2 linked regions of the Homo sapiens genome follow. The protein of the gene in region 2 interacts with the protein of the main gene of each other region in a pairwise test. Each region holds a gene or a part of one and is shown on either strand. Other genes may lie near its edges.

What was found. Proteins that work in one complex are often made in the same cells at the same time.
Region 1: the proteins of TRMT61A (region 2) and TRMT6 interact in binary tests that used the Homo sapiens proteins (3 or more experiments, as listed by UniProt).

Annotation. Positions count from the first base shown.
Region 1 is NC_000020.11:5,943,664-5,948,588, reverse strand, and holds part of TRMT6 (tRNA (adenine(58)-N(1))-methyltransferase non-catalytic subunit TRM6), read left to right. Parts: intron 1-2,055; coding exon 2,056-2,183; intron 2,184-3,674; coding exon 3,675-3,784; intron 3,785-4,335; coding exon 4,336-4,427; intron 4,428-4,557; coding exon 4,558-4,641; intron 4,642-4,905; coding exon 4,906-4,925. UniProt on the Homo sapiens protein: Substrate-binding subunit of tRNA (adenine-N(1)-)-methyltransferase, which catalyzes the formation of N(1)-methyladenine at position 58 (m1A58) in initiator methionyl-tRNA.
Region 2 is NC_000014.9:103,534,885-103,537,573, forward strand, and holds the end of TRMT61A (tRNA (adenine(58)-N(1))-methyltransferase catalytic subunit TRMT61A), read left to right. Parts: 3' UTR 1-2,189; downstream 2,190-2,689. UniProt on the Homo sapiens protein: Catalytic subunit of tRNA (adenine-N(1)-)-methyltransferase, which catalyzes the formation of N(1)-methyladenine at position 58 (m1A58) in initiator methionyl-tRNA.

The sequences.
Region 1 (4,925 bases), on a different chromosome or scaffold from region 2:
GGATTACAGGCATGAACAGTAGTTGACCTTCCCCTTTTGTGGTGCCAAAAGGGTTGGAGACCACTGCCCTAAACATTTATTTGGAAATACTTTTCAACAGGCCCTCTTCTTCGCAGAAGTCATAGTGGCAGTTTCCATTTTATTTAGGAAATGACTCTCTCAGCTCAGCTGCATCCCAGGTCAGACTCCCTCATCACCCTTGGGGCTACACTCATCTGATTGGGCAAAAAACAGTCCAGGCTCTCTGAGAAGTAGACTCTGCAAATCCTACTCCTTCCCAGTAAAGATGTGGCCTCCTTATCCCTCTAACGGGGCCCCACATTCCCGACTGGGGCAGTGACCTGTCAAACCAGCCAGTTTTAAGTGACACGCATCATCCCCTCTGCATATCACATAGGCTCTCAGAGAGGTAAACCCACCCATCTCAGATCCAGTGTTTTTGTTTGGTTTGTCTGTTTGTTTGTTTTGTGAGACGGGATCTCACTCGGTCCCCCAGGCTAGAGTGTAGTGGCGTGAACTTGGCTCACTGCAACCACTGCCTCTTGGGCTCAAGCAATCTTCCACCTCAGCCTCCTCAGTAACTAATTTGTGTACTTTTTGTAGAGAAACTCCTGAATTCAAGTGACCCTCCTGCTTCAGCCTCCCAAGTAGCTGGGACTACAGGTGTGTGCCACTACACCTGGCTAATTTTTTTATTTTTTGTAGAGACGGAGTTTTTCCCCGTCAGCCAGGCTGGTCTCAAACTCCTGGACTCAAGTGACCCACCTGGCCTCCCACAGTTCTGGGATTACAAGTGTGACCCACCACACCTGGCCAGATCCAGTGTTTCAAAGCACCTAGGTGATTAAAGGATGAGGATAGGGGGTGCACATCTGGGCTGAGCTGAATTGCAACATCTGAGGAGGTTTACATTAGCAAATATTTTGAGTGTCTGTTACATTCTGTTGTATGTAAGTATCTAGGGACCCAGCAAATAACAAGAATTGGCCATATCTGAATCACTTACGATCATACAGGATTTCCCTCAGATGGTTTGAGTAAGCTTTAATGAAGATGTGACTCAAAAGTGTGGCCGATTTAGGGAACCAATAAAGGTGACACACCCAGAGACCAGCAATGGTGGTAAGCCTCTGACACGGGAGCGTGGGTGATGTGGCAGTATATTCTGTCGTAATCAGCTTCCTGGTGGCACAGAGAAAGGAAGAGAAGGAGTGGGATGGGGCACAATCAGAATTAACCACCACATGATTCCCAGAATTCAGTGTTCTGTGCACATGGGCCATGTCCTGAAGCTAGGTGGGCTTTCTACCGTCCTTAGGTCTTTGCTGGAGTAGACCGTGTGGTATAGTGGAAAGAATGAGGCTTGGGGTCAGACACAGATTTGAATTTGAATCCCAGCTCCAACAACACCTTGCAACTGTGAATCTTGGACAAGATACTTCTCCCTGGGCCTCGGATTGCTCTTCTGGAAAGAGCTATGTCCCAGGATTACCGTGAGAATTAAATCAAAAAGTGTGAATCACACCTCGCACACACTGCCTAGCCCCTGGTTGGCACTCAGCAGATGTTAGTTTTCTTTTGAGAAGAAAGCATTGTGTTCCTGTGGGATTTCTCTTTTAAATTGCAATAAGATAAAAAATCTATGTCATAGGAAACCTCAAGTTGCCTGGTCCTCAGTAGAGCATTGTCAGTGTTAGGCTCCATTTCCAAGTGTGTAGATTGTCAGTGTTTATTTGCAAGTATAATTTGCTTTTATTAGATAATTTTCAAATAAAATGGCCGATCAGACCAAGCCCAAGAAATTTGTTAAATCCTTGTTACTTCGATGAGTCTTTGCTTCCCCTTTCCAAAATTCAGTGTTCTTGTGGCTTATTCATTAATTTTACGTCTCTATCCCAACCAGGTTCTCTCTAGTTCCTTTGTTGCTTTATGTTCAGAGATAATGCTGCTGATCATCCATTGTGGAGACCACTTTTGAAATAAACTGTAGTGAACATGTCTTTTCTGTACTGGATAGAAAAGATATTCAGTTAATTGATTACTTTTTTTCCCTAGAAAAGTAACTTTCGAAAAACAGTGGTTCTACCTGGATAACGTCATTGGCCATAGTTATGGAACTGCATTTGAAGTGACCAGTGGAGGAAGTCTACAGCCCAAGAAGAAGAGGGAAGAGCCTACTGCAGGTGCACATTTTGGATGCGTGAAATAGATGCTCTCCAACTGACTAGTCAGAAACATCTCAGCCTCCACCTAATTCCCAAGTGCTAGGCCATGCTATCCCAAAAGAAATCTTAACTCATAATCTAAGAACTGCAGCTCAGTGGAGTGAAGCAAGTACTGCCTTTGGCCATGAGATAACCTGGATTCTGGCTCCAGCCCACCATTAAATGGTTCTCTGTTCTTGGGCCAGGCATTTAATCCTATGAGTCGTTGCTGCGTCATTGCAAGAACATAATGTAAAGTTCTTTCAGTGCCCAGAAGTTATGTAACAGCTGTGAGGTGGTTAGCATATGGTGTAGAGGTTAAGAGGTCTGGTTTTGGATCCAGCTAAGTTCAATTTCTACCTTCATCACTTGCCTTGTACCGTTGGGCAACTTATTTGATTTCTGTGAGTCTTATATCCTTATATATGTAAAATAGGGTCATAAACACATTTAATGCCTAGGTTGTATTGAGTGTTCTATGATATGACTCATAGGAAGTTCTGAATAGTGTCTTGCTTTTAGTAAGGGCCCATAATTTTAGCTATTACTATTATTATTTCTTAACAACCTCTTGTCCAAAAGCTGTTATTGTTAATTAAAATTATATTTATTAAAATGAACATTGAGAGTATCTTATTAATTAAAACACAAGTAATTATTTGAAGTTAAATACTGTTAAAGTTTTGAGTCAAACCTGTTATTTAGATACATTTAAATTAATATCCATATTTTTACTAAGCACCAAATATATGCCAGGTATAATTTGGCGCTGCAATTATAGCAGTTCATAAGATAGACTGTCGTATAAAATGTGCTTACCAGTTGGAACACCAAAAATAATCAAGTAGACAAGCAAACAGCATGATTTCTGATGGTGAAGTGACACATGCTATGAAGATAATAAAGCAGGGGCGTGTACTAATTTGGTAAAGCAAGAGAATGAGCTCAGCCTCAAGTGATAGAAAGGATCCAGCCACTCAGACATCTGTCGTAGAACCTTCCAGGCAGAGGAAGCAGCAGGTGCCAAAAGCCTGCTGTGGGACCTTGCTGGGTGTGTTCAAGGAACAGAAAGAAGGCCATTGTGGCTGAAGCTAAAGTGTCAAGAGATCAGGCCAGGAATGATAGGCAGGGGCCAGATCATTTATGACCTTGCAGGTCATCTTTGGAGTGTATTCTTATTGCTATGGGAAGCCACTGTATGGTTTTAAGCATGGGGTAGATGAGTCAAATTGCATTTAAACAAAGAGCACTCTGGCATCCAGGTGGATAGTAGGGGGGCAAGACTGGGAGCAGGAAGATGACTTAGAGGCTTGGAGTAGTTTTGGCAGGAAAGGATAGTGTGATGGGGGCAGTGCAGCTGGGAGGCCAGACTTGAGTGGCTGATGGACTGGATGTGGATATGAACTCAGAAAAAGAAAGTGTCAAATAATTTCAGACCATAAATGTCAATAGAGCAATTTCTTTCCTTAGAGACTAAAGAAGCGGGCACTGATAATCGAAATATAGTTGATGATGGGAAATCTCAGAAACTTACTCAAGATGACATAAAAGCTTTGAAGGACAAGGGCATTAAAGGAGAGGTAATATTCAAAGGATTTTTAGTTTTGTTTTTGTCTGTTTGGCATTTAGGAAACTGTTGGGTTTTTAAAGCAGACTGTACCTAAGGTAAAACAAAAAAATAACGTTATAGCTTTGATAGAAATAGGTTGAAATGTACATGTTACTCAACATTTCAAAGATTTTATGTCTTATATACAGGAATATAAGTGAATGACATTACTAATGTCAGTGGTAGAGAATGTAATAACAGTGCATATCAGGATTTAACTTTGTTCATTTTCAGTAATGTTTTCAGCCAGTGTCTTCAGAAATTAGTTTCCTTTACCTCTCTTCTCCTTTTGTTGGATATCTCTGTTCTTTTACGTTGGTTTAAGTGGAGTTATAAAGTACTTGTATTTTATTATAAATTCCAAATAGAGTATAGAAATATAAAGTTCATCTATTTGGACTTCTGTGGAAAAGGGATTGGAGAATCAGACCATTGGATCCATTCTTGGGTAAGAAGCCTTTGGAAATTACTTGTTTTGTGAAAGTAAAGTTTCAGAAAATCTACTTGCTCCTTTTCTTATAGGAAATAGTTCAGCAGTTAATTGAAAATAGTACAACATTCCGAGACAAGACAGAATTTGCCCAAGATAAATATATTAAAAAGAAGAAAAAAAAGTAAGTAGTTTTTATTTTAAAAGGCCCACAATATTAAACTTCTTATATGTTTATAAAATATACATTTTATTACAAATAAAATATTTTAAGTCATTTTTTTAAATCAGCGTTCTGTTTTTTCTTCCCCCAGATATGAAGCCATCATTACTGTTGTGAAGCCATCCACCCGTATTCTTTCAATTATGTATTATGCAAGAGAACCTGGAAAAATTAAGTACGCTTTGTTTCCTTTCAAAAGTATAATTGGGGGAAATATGTCTTTAAGAAAGTCATGATTTTAAGTAAAATGAAAAAGCTTGCTCACCTGCATAAAGTATCCTCCTACCTCATAAATTGTAAGTCCTTTTACTGTCACCTCCAAAGCAATCAATAATCTTATCAACACAATTTTAATAAAGCAAACAAAACTTGAAAAATGATGATTAAAATAATAGGCTTTACTTAGCTAAAAATGAACAAATTATTGTTTTTACTTTAGCCACATGAGATACGATACAC
Region 2 (2,689 bases):
GCACCTTATATGGTCAGCGATGCCTGCCAGACACAGACGGTGGGGTGGGGCTTGGGGGCCTCCTGGGTGGCCAGAGTGGGACAGCAGGAAGGGCGGCTGTGATGGAGGAGCAGTGCTGGGGCTGGGCCTCAGCCATTCCTGTCCAGCCCTGTGGCCCATCCCAGCTGCTGTTTGTTGCCAATATGAAGTATCCACTGCCACAGGCTCCCCTGGGTGTTGAAGCCAAAGGGTGCAGGTGGGGGAGTCTGACCCCCTCCCAGGTGGGCCTAAGCAGGAAGGGGGTGGAGGAGGGAGGGGGGCATTGACCCTGAGACCACGCTGCGTCTGACCCCTGGGCCCCCACGGCCCTGGCTGCCCCACGGGGCCTGAGACCATCTCGTGCTTCTCCAGTCCCCGGGCCGAGGCTCCAGCCTTGGCCAGAAGCTGGGGTGAGCTGACCCAGAATCCCTGCCCTGCTCTCCCCAGCGCTAGGAGACCAGGCCAGCCCAGGAACCAGGGAGGTGACCCTGCTCTCTGGCCTCCTGGCTGATGTCACAGCACTGAGCTCAGCCCAGGCCTTCGTCCACTCATGTCCAAGAGGCGGGGCATCCCCCACCCAGCCAGAGCCCCTGACATGGGCTGCACTCGCTGAGGCCAGGCAGCGCTGCGGAGAGGAGCGGCAGAGTGGGTTGTCTGCCGCAGGCAACCAGGCAAGTGTGTCGGGGCTGGGGTGTGAATGCCAGCCTGTGAGTCCCGGAACTATGTGGGTACCCCTACCCCTCACAGAAGCCAAGGGCATGGAGGAGGTCCCTCCACAGTGACAACGGTGTGGGGTAGGGGAGGTGCATTCAGGACACCACCCAGGGACAGTGCCTATGTGATCACCTCTTAAAGGCTAAGCTTAGGGGCATTTCCCAAAGTGGGGACAGAGGGCAGGACGCCCAGGCTGGGGGCTCTCCTCGCCCGCCCTGGTGTCTGACAGCCTCAAGGAAGGAGCAGTGCCTGTGTCAGCCATGGGGCCCTTGGAGCTGCCGCTGGTGCCTAGGGGGCCTGGGTTTCTGCCCAGGCAGCCAGTGGCTGTTGGGAGCCTCTGTTTCCCCTGTGCTGGGGGCCTTGAGTGCTATGCTAGCAGGGGCCTGGCCCCAAGTGTGAGTGATGAGCAATAAACGTACCGTCCCCCTCTGTTCTGAGTGATCCCTAGCAGCCAAGGCCACCCCCAGCTGCTGTCTAGGCCAGCCCTACCTGCGCTCTGCCCCTGGTCCCTGCTCCTCCCTGTCCTGGTTTGGCATGATAGGCGCTCCAGTCTCCAGGACAAAGGGGCAAATGTGTGGCCACCCCCATCTGGCTGCAGAAAAGGCCACTCCTTCCTGGGGTTGGGGTGGTCCAGGAGTGCTGGGCCTTCTTCCACAGTCCTGGGCTGGAATTCAGTGTGGCTGCCTGGGTTACTTGTATGCGCCCCTGAAGGAAGGGTCCACTCCAGGCCGCCTGGTCCCTGCGAAGTGTCACACTGTGGGTCACCGGGGGCTGTGGCTAATGTGGTCCGGGAGGCCTGTGTCCCTGAGAGTTGCTCAGCCCTGCTCCGAGGGCTTGTCCTCTCCTTCCAGGACCCAGCTTCCCTTCTAACCTTGTTACTCACCTGGGGCACAGAGGAGGGGCCCCCAGTCAGGTTCAACATGGAAGTGGGTGACCCTAATGCCAGGAGCTTTGGGGTCAGGCTGTCCCTGGGGTGTCATGAACTGGGTGACGCACACCCCTGAGATCTCAGTTCCCCCAAGCCTGCCCTGCCCCTCCTGGCCACAGCAAAGGCCTGCATGGTGTCTGATGGGTGGACACCGGGAGGTGTTTCTTTGAGGCGCAGCTCCATGGTTTATAGGACACATAGGCCTCAGGCACCGTAGGGTCCAGGTTGTGCCCATTTTCCAGCCGGGGCTGGTTGCCCTGGTGGCAGCCCTGGGTGAGTCACCAGGGTCCGCACATGGAGAGCGGGAGGTCCCAGCCCACCCTTAGTTGTCACATGGGACAGAGTTGCTGTGTCAATCCCCTCGGCCCTGCTGCTCTGCCCTGCACACAGGCCCCCATGATGACCTTGAGCCTCCAGGCATCCACCCCCACCGTATGGCCCTCTAGACCCAGCTGGGCCTCACCCCACTCCCTCAGCTTGGATCCTCACGTGGCCTGGAGCCAGCATTAAACTCCTGTATGTCCTTCAAGACCCCTTCAAATGTCCTTTTCTCAGCATGCTTCCCCAGACATCTAATGCCCAGGCGGGAGAGTCCTGCACACCATGTCCCGAAGGAGTCCCCATAGCAGAGGAGCAGAAGGCAAGCAGCGCCCCAGTTCTGTGATGGGGAGCCTGACTTTCAGAGGTAGAGCTGGGCCCATGGCCGTGAGTGACCGATGAGCAGGCCCGGATGGTCAGCGCGAGTCAGCAGCACGGGCTCATCATGGGGCACGGATTCACCAGAAACTCCCTGCCTGGCCCAGTGTGTACTCGCCTGTGGCCCTCAGATTTTCCCTGGCAATTCCTCCCCGCTCACCCTGCTGTCCTGCACTGAGACAGTGGCACATGACTCCCAGCTGCCCAAGCCCTGGAAGGTCCCAGACCCTGGCTCTGACTCAGCTGCTTGGAGGGTCCTAGTCCTGGGAACTGCCCTAGAGCCGAGATTAGAGTACCCCTCCCTCAGGAAGCCCCGGGGTGTCAGCTGCTCCT